Homo sapiens: one gene and its partner. The protein of the gene in region 1 purifies or fractionates together with the protein of each later gene. This does not show direct contact. Each region holds a gene or a part of one and is shown in the gene's direction. Other genes may lie near its edges.

The links. Proteins that work in one complex are often made in the same cells at the same time.
Region 2: the proteins of ZNF512 (region 1) and NAT10 purify together in Homo sapiens (affinity purification with mass spectrometry; 2 studies listed by BioGRID and IntAct, with this or other methods). This does not show direct contact.

The regions. Positions count from the first base shown.
Region 1 is NC_000002.12:27,578,255-27,586,051, forward strand, and holds the start of ZNF512 (zinc finger protein 512), read left to right. Parts: upstream 1-4,787; 5' UTR 4,788-4,858; coding exon 4,859-4,888; intron 4,889-5,171; exon of another isoform or gene 5,172-5,272; intron 5,273-5,403; coding exon 5,404-5,462; intron 5,463-7,797. Other genes in the region: SPATA31H1 (spermatogenesis-associated protein 31H1), read left to right, coding at 1-4,273. UniProt on the Homo sapiens protein: May be involved in transcriptional regulation.
Region 2 is NC_000011.10:34,143,629-34,147,442, forward strand, and holds the end of NAT10 (RNA cytidine acetyltransferase), read left to right. Parts: intron 1-2,455; coding exon 2,456-2,564; 3' UTR 2,565-3,280; downstream 3,281-3,814. UniProt on the Homo sapiens protein: RNA cytidine acetyltransferase that catalyzes the formation of N(4)-acetylcytidine (ac4C) modification on mRNAs, 18S rRNA and tRNAs.

The DNA.
Region 1 (7,797 bases):
AGATGTGAAATCTACAAAATTAATCACAAAGCCAAAACACCAGATTTTGGAAACAGTGGAGTTGACAGGGTTTCAAATTGTAAAAACTATGTTAATCCCAGGGCCATCCCTTCAAATCGTAAAATCTGAGGAGTTAGCACCAGGACCAATTCCTCAGGTTGTAGAACCAATAGGAGTAGCCCTAGAATCAGGAATTGAAGCAATAAATTGTGTGGATTTACTTCCAAGGCCACATCTTCAAGAACTGATAGTACCTGCAGAATTAACTCCAAGTCCATGTACTCAAGTGAAGTCTGCAGAATTAACCTCACCGCAAACATCTCCATTTGAGGAACATACAATATTGACTCATAAACAAGGGCTTCAGGCTGTGAAATCTACAGTGATAAAAACAGAGCCTCCTAAAGTTATGGAAACTGAGGATTTGAATCTAGGACACGTGTGTCAGAATAGGGACTGTCAGAAGTTAACATCAGAAGAGTTACAAGTAGGGACTGACTTCTCTAGGTTCCTACAAAGCTCTTCAACCACACTCATTTCAAGCTCTGTCAGAACAGCATCTGAATTAGGAGGACTTTGGGATTCTGGGATACAGGAAGTATCCAGAGCTTTGGATATAAAAAACCCTGGGACAGATATTTTGCAGCCTGAAGAGACCTATATAGACCCTACTATGATACAATCTTTAACTTTTCCTTTGGCCCTTCATAATCAAAGCTCCGATAAGACAGCTAACATTGTGGAAAACCCATGTCCTGAGATTCTAGGAGTGGATGTAATATCTAAAGAGACAACTAAGAGGAAGCAAATGGAGGAGCTAGAGAACTCACTTCAGAGACATCTACCACAAAGCTGGAGATCACGATCTAGGACATTCCAGGCAGAATCAGGGGTTCAGAAAGGTCTCATCAAGTCTTTCCCGGGCAGACAACACAATGTCTGGGAGAGTCATGCCTGGAGGCAGCGACTACCAAGAAAATATCTCTCCACTATGCTAATGCTGGGGAATATTTTAGGGACCACTATGGAAAGGAAGCTTTGTTCTCAAACATCTTTAGCAGAAAGAGCCACTGCAGATACCTGTCAATCTATTCAGAATTTATTTGGGATTCCAGCTGAACTGATGGAACCTTCCCAGAGCCTGCCAGAGAAGGGTCCAGTTACTATTTCTCAGCCTTCTGTGGTCAAAAACTATATTCAGAGACATACTTTTTATCATGGTCATAAGAAAAGAATGGCCTTAAGGATATGGACACGTGGCTCCACATCTTCCATAATACAGCAATACTCTGGGACTAGAGTGAGAATAAAGAAGACAAACTCAACGTTCAATGGTATATCCCAAGAAGTCATTCAACATATGCCTGTCTCATGTGCAGGGGGCCAGCTTCCTGTCCTGGTAAAGTCAGAGTCTTCCCTCAGCATATTTTACGATAGAGAAGATCTTGTTCCAATGGAAGAAAGTGAGGACTCACAGAGTGATTCCCAGACAAGGATTTCTGAGTCCCAACACTCCCTCAAGCCAAATTATCTTTCCCAGGCCAAGACTGACTTCTCAGAACAGTTCCAGTTGCTAGAAGATCTGCAGCTAAAAATAGCAGCAAAACTCTTAAGGAGTCAAATACCCCCCGATGTGCCTCCACCTCTAGCTTCAGGTCTAGTCCTAAAATACCCTATCTGCCTACAGTGTGGCCGATGTTCAGGACTTAATTGCCATCATAAATTACAGACCACTTCGGGGCCTTATCTTCTTATCTATCCACAGCTCCACCTTGTACGCACTCCTGAAGGCCATGGTGAGGTTCGGTTGCATCTTGGCTTTAGGCTGAGAATTGGGAAAAGATCCCAAATCTCAAAGTATCGTGAAAGAGATAGACCCGTCATACGGAGAAGCCCTATATCACCATCACAAAGGAAAGCTAAAATCTATACTCAAGCTTCCAAGAGTCCTACTTCCACAATAGATTTGCAGTCTGGGCCTTCCCAGTCCCCTGCTCCTGTACAAGTCTACATCAGGCGAGGACAACGCAGCAGGCCTGACTTAGTAGAAAAGACAAAAACTAGAGCACCTGGGCACTATGAATTCACTCAAGTTCACAACCTACCAGAGAGTGACTCTGAAAGCACTCAGAATGAAAAACGGGCTAAAGTGAGAACCAAAAAGACCTCTGATTCAAAATATCCAATGAAGAGAATCACCAAGCGACTTAGAAAACACAGAAAGTTCTACACAAACAGTAGAACCACAATAGAGAGTCCTTCTAGGGAATTAGCAGCCCATTTAAGAAGGAAGAGGATTGGAGCAACTCAGACAAGTACTGCCTCTTTAAAAAGACAACCTAAGAAACCTTCCCAACCCAAGTTCATGCAACTGCTTTTTCAGAGCCTAAAGCGGGCATTCCAAACAGCACACAGAGTTATAGCTTCTGTTGGGCGGAAGCCTGTGGACGGGACAAGGCCAGACAATTTGTGGGCAAGCAAAAACTATTATCCAAAACAAAATGCCAGGGACTATTGCTTACCAAGCAGTATCAAAAGAGACAAGAGGTCAGCTGACAAGCTAACGCCAGCAGGCTCAACCATTAAGCAGGAGGACATATTGTGGGGAGGAACGGTCCAGTGCAGATCAGCTCAACAGCCAAGAAGAGCTTACTCTTTCCAACCCAGACCTCTTCGACTGCCCAAGCCCACAGATTCCCAAAGTGGTATTGCTTTCCAAACTGCCTCAGTGGGGCAGCCTCTGAGAACTGTTCAAAAGGACAGTAGTAGCAGATCAAAGAAAAACTTCTATAGAAATGAAACCTCCAGCCAGGAGTCTAAGAACTTGTCCACACCAGGAACCAGAGTTCAGGCCCGAGGAAGAATCCTACCTGGTTCCCCTGTGAAGAGAACCTGGCACCGACATCTTAAAGACAAACTCACACACAAGGAGCATAACCACCCCAGCTTCTATAGGGAGAGAACCCCACGCGGTCCTTCTGAGAGAACCCGTCATAACCCCTCTTGGAGAAACCATCGCAGTCCCTCTGAGAGAAGCCAACGCAGTTCCTTGGAGAGAAGACATCACAGTCCCTCTCAGAGGAGCCACTGCAGTCCCTCTAGGAAAAACCATTCCAGTCCTTCTGAGAGAAGCTGGCGCAGTCCGTCTCAGAGAAATCACTGCAGTCCCCCCGAGAGGAGCTGTCACAGTCTCTCTGAAAGGGGCCTTCACAGTCCCTCTCAGAGGAGCCATCGCGGTCCCTCTCAGAGAAGACATCACAGTCCCTCAGAGAGAAGCCATCGCAGTCCCTCAGAGAGAAGCCATCGCAGTTCCTCTGAGAGAAGACATCGCAGTCCCTCCCAGAGGAGCCATCGCGGTCCCTCAGAGAGAAGCCATTGCAGTCCCTCTGAGAGAAGACATCGCAGTCCCTCTCAGAGGAGCCATCGTGGTCCCTCTGAGAGAAGACATCACAGTCCCTCTAAGAGAAGCCATCGCAGTCCCGCTCGGAGGAGCCATCGCAGTCCCTCAGAGAGAAGCCATCACAGTCCCTCTGAGAGAAGCCATCACAGTCCCTCTGAGAGAAGACATCACAGTCCCTCTGAGAGAAGCCATTGCAGTCCCTCTGAGAGAAGCCATTGCAGTCCCTCTGAGAGAAGACATCGCAGTCCCTCTGAGAGAAGACATCACAGTCCCTCAGAGAAAAGCCATCACAGTCCCTCTGAGAGAAGCCATCACAGTCCCTCTGAGAGAAGACGTCACAGTCCCTTGGAGAGGAGCCGTCACAGTCTCTTGGAGAGGAGCCATCGCAGTCCCTCTGAGAGGAGATCTCACAGGTCCTTTGAGAGGAGCCATCGTAGGATTTCTGAGAGAAGTCACAGTCCCTCAGAGAAGAGCCACCTCAGTCCCTTGGAAAGAAGCCGTTGCAGTCCCTCTGAGAGGAGAGGACACAGTTCCTCTGGGAAAACCTGTCACAGTCCCTCTGAGAGAAGCCATCGCAGTCCCTCCGGGATGAGGCAAGGGAGGACCTCTGAGAGGAGCCATCGCAGTTCCTGTGAGAGAACCCGTCACAGTCCCTCTGAGATGAGGCCAGGGAGGCCCTCTGGGAGGAACCATTGCAGTCCCTCTGAGAGGAGCCGACGCAGTCCCCTTAAGGAGGGACTCAAGTACAGTTTCCCTGGAGAGAGGCCCAGCCATAGTTTGTCTAGAGATTTCAAGAATCAAACAACTCTCCTCGGGACCACACATAAAAATCCCAAAGCAGGGCAAGTGTGGAGGCCTGAAGCTACTCGATGAGGCGAGGTCCGCCCCTATTATTCATTGTCCTAAGTCTTCATCGTGCTGCCCTTTCCAGGCTTCTTTCCTGCTCAGCCACTGCCTCCAATTCCTGCGCCCCCAGCGTGGAAAGGCTTCCATTTCTCTCTACCGGGGGGGAGGCGGGTGAGAATGGGTCTGTAATTTCTCTAAGATGAATAAAGGGGCAGTAAATGATCTTCCTGTGCATCTGGACTGAGACCACTGGGCGGGTGGATGGGGAAGGCAGGCTGGAGGGACACGAGGAGTTGTGCAAAGATTCGGAATGAGAGCCAGGGGTTTTGAGGCCCAGCCGAGGCTCCAAGCTCCGCCCCTTCACTCCAGACCCCACCCATAGGTTCCCGGGTCCCGCGTCGCGATCCCAGTGGGGCGGGGTCTCAGAGGAATCGGAGGGTGACTCATCACGTGACTCGCTCCGGCCGCAGCCCCCTCGGAAGCTGCTAGGCGGAAGTAGAAGTTCAGAAGAGGGCTAGGCGGAGCCGAGCCCACATCCGGGAGAGGAGAGCGGAAGTGGCGTTGGTCTGGCCGGAGCCCTTGGGTGAAATTGTTAGGCGTGGAGAGGGAGTGATGTCTTCCAGACTCGGTGCTGTACCCGCCGTGAGTTTCTTGGTTTGACCGTTATGCTTTAGAGGTAGCGCTGTCGAGCCCGGAACACGCGGTCCCTCGCTTTTGTCCCATGCTGAGTTGGTTTTATCAGAGGCCATCGTAGGCCCCACCCTTCTAGATCAGATCACCTGTCCCTTTTTCTTTACCCACGTTCTGCTGCCTGTTCCCCACCTCCTTGGATTTAATTCCTCGCCACATTACCATTAGTTTCTATTCCTTTTACATCCCCAATGTCTCTCATATCCGTTGTCTTTTCTTTTGGCCTCCCTTTTAGAGCCTGGGACAGGGCTTTGAGAATGGGGGAAGACGAAGGCTCTGGTATTGTTACCCGCCTTTGCACTGCTGGAAGATAGGACAGCATATTTTTCCTAAAAGGTGTTGCCTTCTTGTGTTTGAGGTGGTTTCCCCGGGAGAACTTCATTTCTTCTGGGCATAGGGGAATTCGTCTTTTTGTGGTCGAGGTTCAGAGGTCCCTAGCACTCACTCGTGTGCTTGTGATTTGCTAGACTTCGGGACCCACAACCTTTAAGCAGCAGAGGAGCACGAGGATCGTGGGAGCTAAGAAGTAAGTGAGGTTTTCTAAGGTCCTTTTATGATTGTGTCACCAGCGCTGACCAGTAGAACTTCTTCCTGTGATGAAAATGTTCTGTATCTGCATTGTCCAGTATCATAGCCACTAACCCGGTGTGGATTTTGAGCAGTTGAAATGTGGCTAGTGCAACTGAGGGACTGAATTTTAAATTTTATTTGCCAAGTGAGTGAGGTTTTTCTAAGGTTCTTTTGTGATTTTGTGGCCAGCGCTGTCCAGTGGAACTTCTTGTGACGAAAATGTTCTGTATCTGCACTGTCTAGTATCATAGCTACTAGCCCCGTACGCCTTTTGAGCGCTTGAAATGTGGCTAGTGCGACTGAGGGATTGAATTTTAAATTTTATTTAATTTTAACTAACGTTAAATAGCCACCTGTAGCTCGTGGCTATCGGATTGGACAGTGTAGGTCTAAGTCTAGTGTGTGGGAGAAAAACCTAGCTTGCAAAAAAAAAGTACAAATTGTAATAAAAATGGAACCAAAGACTCAGTGGTAATTCTGTATTTCTCCAGACATGAAATTCGTGCTCATAAATACACTGATGAACTTGGGATGGATGATAAAAATGGCCGTAAGAAATCCTTGTATTTTTAAACTACTTGTCTGTAAGACTGGTTTATTATTTAGTACACTGAAGGTGCTTAGTTTTTCCATGGTTAATACAAAAGAAAACATTCTTGTTAACTAGACATTAAATGGATTCATTCATTCAGGTGACATTTACTACATGTTTGCTGTGCGCCAGTTCTGTAGTAGGTTAGGAATACAGGCATGAAAAACAACTAGCAGTCTAGAAGGGGAGATAGGCAAGTAGGTCAACACAGTTCATTGTAATAAGTAAGTATTTTTAAGTAGGAATTTAATTTAGCCTTTGAGGAAGGGGAGTGATAGTTTGGAAGGGAAGGATTATCAGAGCAGGTCACTCCTAAGTAGAAACTTGAAAGTTGAGGAATCATGCAGTTAGTGAGAAGGAGAAAGGTTTTTCAGAACAGAGAACAGCATGTGAACGTGTGGAAAGAGTTAATGGGATAGTAAGTAGTTCTGTATGTCTGGGATAGAGGATGAGGGATTGCAGGGAGAGCGTTTAGAGAGGTTAGTAGGGGCTAGACCATGGAGGACCTGTTACGGCATGCTAAAGTGTTTGGATTTTATCCTGGAAGAGATAATGAGGGAATGACATAGCCAGATATTGGTCTTAGGCCACTCTGGCAGCATTATGAAGGATGGATTTGGAAGGGTACTGGGAAACTGGTTCAGAGGTTATTATGATAACCTAAGAGATGAATAAAGAACATGTAGCCTATGGTGGGAACAATATACAGGGAATACGTAGGGAACAACGTATAGGGAATGTACAGGTGGTGATGATGAGAAGTGAGTAAGAGAAGGAAGATAGGATGTCTATGGGTTTCTGGCTTTGGCCATCAGGTGAATTTTGGAGTAATTCACAGAACTACAAATTTCTGAATGAGGAGCAACATTTGGAACAAAAACAAATAGGTTTGGACCTCAGATGAAGAGCTGGTCTGAAATACAGAATTGGGAATTATCAGCTATAAAAAATAATTGGAAACATGATGTTTTCTTCCACAAGCTGAGAGTTTTAATGAGCTCTTCTAGTTAAAGTGGTTAGAGCAATGTTTCTCAGTATGTACCTTGGTCACCTAGAGATAATTGTTAAAAAATAAGATTATTAGGCCCCCATCCATTAACCAGATTTGGAATCATTGGGTTTAGGGCATAGAAATCTTTACTTTTAACTAGCTTCCTAGGAGATTGTGACATTTGAGAGTCAATGGTGAGAAGTGAGACCAGAGAAGAGTAGAGGAGGAAATCATGGAGAACACTAGCTTTTAAAGATTGGGTAGAATTAAATAAGTTTACAAAGGATACCGAGATGAACTAAAGTACTTTTCTAATGAAATCTAAATATTTGCACATGGAAGAATGAGCTAGGGGCTCTTAAAAATTTTTGGTAGATCAGAAAGGAGTTGAAAATAGGCTAAACTTTTTATGTTTGTGATCAGAAGCTGAGAGTTGCCACACTGGTGGCAACAAATTATAAAATAAATGCAATTATGATAGTCATTGTATCACAACAAAGCTTTTTCTTGTTATATGTATGGAAAGGGAAGTTTGAGCTTAATCTGGTTTTTTTTACAAATAATCAAATGTCCTGGGGTTGATGGGTAGATATTGTAAAATACTTGAGAATTGTTTTTGTTGAGTGCTTTAAAAATAAAACATGAGACCTGGAGGAGGGATTCCCTAACCACCTTGATTTAATCTCCAAGAGTTAATTATGATCATAT
Region 2 (3,814 bases), on another chromosome or scaffold:
TTTGACAGAAAAGTCATGGTTCTTCCCTTTGAGAGTCCCCTGGCCATTACCCTTGCAGTGCATGTCCCACAGACCAGGAGGGCCATCTCTTAGGCATGGATCTCTTCACTCTTTGTATTTGTCAGCCATGCCAGGGCACTGGGCCTGTCATGGAGAAGGGCTTGAGGGAACAGTCCAGAAGCTGCCACTGGCTGAGACTTGCTTATGGGCTTTCATCATTCAGCCCTCAGGATGACAGCATAAGGGGGCTGTTTTATTACTGTCATTGCTTTAAGATGAAGTAACAAGGCTCTCAGGGGTTAAGTTCCCAAGAAGCACACAGCTAGTGAGAGCCGGAGCCAGAATCAAGTCCAGGTTTCTCCACTGCAAGGCCATAGGTTTAACTGTTACGTTGTCCTTCCTTTGAGCCAGCAGTTCTCAAGGTTTTGGGTCTTTGAGTTCCTTTATCTCTTAACAATTAAGGTCCCCAAAGGACTTTTGTTGGTTATATCTATGGAAATTTCCCATATTAGAAATGAAAAACTGGCCAGGTGCAGTGGCTCACGCCTGTAATCTCAGCACTTTGGGAGGCCGAGGTAGGAGGATCGCTTGAGCCCAGGTGTTCAAGACCAACCTGCGCAACATAGCAGACCCTGTCTCTGCAAAAAAATTTTAAAAAGAAAATAAATGAAAAACTGAGAAATTTAAAAAAAATTCATTTGTTCACAGTAATAACGGACTCAGTCGTTTTGAAAAATACTCTTTTTCATAAAAATTTTGGTGAGAAGAGTGGCATTGTTTTACATTTACATTTTTGCAAATCTCTTCAATATCTGGCTTAACAGAAGGCAGCCGGATACTAATGTCTGTGTCTTCACTGACACTATTTTGCTGTCATATCTTATACTCTCTGGAAAACTGAATATTTGTGAGAGAATGAAAATGAAAAAAGGCAAATAACTGTTTTCATACTAATCCAAATACATTTTGACCTTGTGGACACCTGAAAGGGTCTTAGGGACCCCAGCAGTCCCTAGACCACTCTTTGAAAATCTTCACTCCAAGCTTCTTATCTGCAGAGTGGTGCATTTGTAAATAACTTAGGCTGGAACCTTCATCAGTTTTCCCTGGGAGTACAATGAGGCCTCCCCTGCCCAGAGCCACTGGAATTGAGGCTTTCACAGCTGATTTGGGGGTTGATGGGGAGGGTGAGATTTTGGCAATCCCCTATTTATTGGTTTCCTTAAAAGCTTATATTTTGGAAACATTCGGGAAGAGGAAACCTTGTGTCTCTAGGAACTATAGATCCCAGAAATCAGGTACTGTCTTCCAGAGTCTCCGTTAGTCACTGTGGCATCTTGAAGGATCCAGCATCGATGCCGGCCTCATTTCCCAGATGCTTTGTGGTGCAGCACAGAAGCCCACTGTCAGTGTGACCTGTCTCTGTTTTGTACAGTATGGCAAATGTAGCACAGGGCCCATGATGGCTTTGGCCTTGAGCACGGTGGCTTTGACTGGAACAAAAGGCCGGGGAGCATGCTTGCTGTGGAGACGGCCTCAGCTCCTCACTCTGCAGAGCTTGGCCTTTCCTGCCATTTGTTTGGCCATTGCTGGTAGTGAGAAGCCTCTCGAGCCCAACAAACCAGTGTTGTGTGGTTGTTCATGTGCTTGATGGCTCTGAGTAAATGTGAAAGCTTGAACTTTGTGAGCTAAAAATACTGGTAGCTATCATTAAGTCCTCTGAGGCCTTTCTTTTTCTTCCTTTGAGAGGTACTTCATTCATATGATGTTAATGGTCTCTGGACTGAACTCTTCACGGTCTCCTTATAGGGAAGTATTTGTTCCCAGAGCAAAATTTAACCTGTAAGTTTCTTAATGGCAGGTGGCCGTTTGCTGAGTGATTCCTATGCCAGGATATCAATGAAGAATCCAGGGGCTGGTCGCAGGGTGTCACCTGAGTTACTGTTGTTTGGGTTTTCTTCTTCTCATATAGGAAAAATAAAATAATAGTAGCACATCAGAAAGTATGGCAGGGTTTTCCTTGGAGTCTCATGCCTTGTATTAAGGACTGTCTTCAGGGTCATTGGGATGAATATGTCTAGTTTCCAGAGTCACTGCAGTGGTGAGAGTGGTGGTGGGGAATCCTTGTGGTGCCTTAGGTCTGTCTTGGGAGAGGGGAGCAGAGTGTACTGCACCCTGAGGAGAACCCGGATTTCAGGTGTTAAGATCGAGATTTGTTCTTCCACAGACTAAGAGCTGGCTCAGGGCAGGAGCTGGTCTGTATGGTGTGTCCCCAGCCCCAGCACAATGCCTGCCCCCTAATAGGTTTGCAGAGAACATTAATGTCCAATTGGGTGGCCTACATCAAGTTTCAGACGGTGGAAACCCTTTTTGACAAAGCAAAGCAAGCTTAAAGCAGTCTCAGATGTTCAGATCTGTACATATTTCATTCTTTCTATTTTTGATTTTTCTCTAGTGACAAGAAAAGGAAGTTAGAGGCCAAACAAGAACCCAAACAGAGCAAGAAGTTGAAGAACAGAGAGACAAAGAACAAAAAAGATATGAAACTGAAGCGGAAGAAATAGTGAAGAGAAACTCGGGCATCTGTGTTTGATCATGGGAAGATACTCTCACTAACTGAACCCTCTCTGGCTGGACTGTTAAAAGCAACGAGAGGCCCCGGCACACCTGGAAGCTGGCCGCGAATTCGGCCTCTGGGCCTGTGTGTCTGTGAGCTCAACCTGGCTAAAGGCAGAGTCACTCCCAAATGGGTCTCTTTAGAACTTGATGGCTGGGCACTGCCATCTCTAGAATTGCCACGAGTCTCTCTCTTCCTGCCCAGTCCAGGGCCCTCCTTTCCTATAAGTTCATATTTTGCTTTGAGCCAGCTTTTTAGTCTCATTCCCACACATGTGGAAGCCACGTTGCCTCTCGACCGCCTGAGGCCCTTAAGTACATCGCTTTCTGGTGGTGCCCAGGAGGCTGCTGCTGGGCCGCTGGGTCTCTCTTTGTGGACTTGTACCTGGAGCAGGAGGAACTCCAGTCCGTCCCGGCATCCATGGCAGCCCGCGGTTAGGTGCGCCAGGGTTTGCTGATGTTGTCTTGTGCTGTTCCACTCTTGGCTCCAGCAGACCCACTGTCCCAGAAAAGCCTGATCCTGTAGTTTATGTAGAATGCCACATCTGCGTCCTCAAGACCTGTTTCATCCATTTGGGAAAAGATGTTGGGAAAGGCCACTTTGCTCGCAGGGGTGAGGGGAAGGATAGAGAATCTATTTTTAATAAATAACATTCTAGAAAGATCAGCTGCCTGTGAGTGTTCTGAAATCCACGCACCTGGACGTTTCTTCTGGTGGGTCTTGGCTGCCTGGTGGAATTTGGAAGGTGTTGGTATCAAGGTCAAAGGTGAGCAGTGTGTCTAGGGCTTCCCAGCCCAGGAGTCTGCGGGAGAAGTGGCAGGTGGCTATGGTCACCTCGAGGGGCTTGGTGTGGTGGCTGGAAGCCAGCTAGAACTGCCTCATTTCCTTCCCAGCTCCTTCCAGGTCACTTGGTCCCTTCCATTTGTTGGGAACAGAGGTAACCTGGTGGCTTTACACATACTTTGGTATGTTTGTTTAATGGTATCCAGGCTAATGAGTCTGCAGCCCCGATATGTTGTCTAGGTTCAGAGAAGGACAGGGAAGGAAACGGTAACTTCTCAGCCTAAGGGTATTTCATATACAGCTCCTAGGACTCGTCCCCACAGGGAGAAGAGCAGGTTCTGTATGCGACCCTAGGGCTGCTGAGGCTTGTCACCGAGGCTGTCAGGACATGAGCCTAGGGGTCTTTCGTTTCTT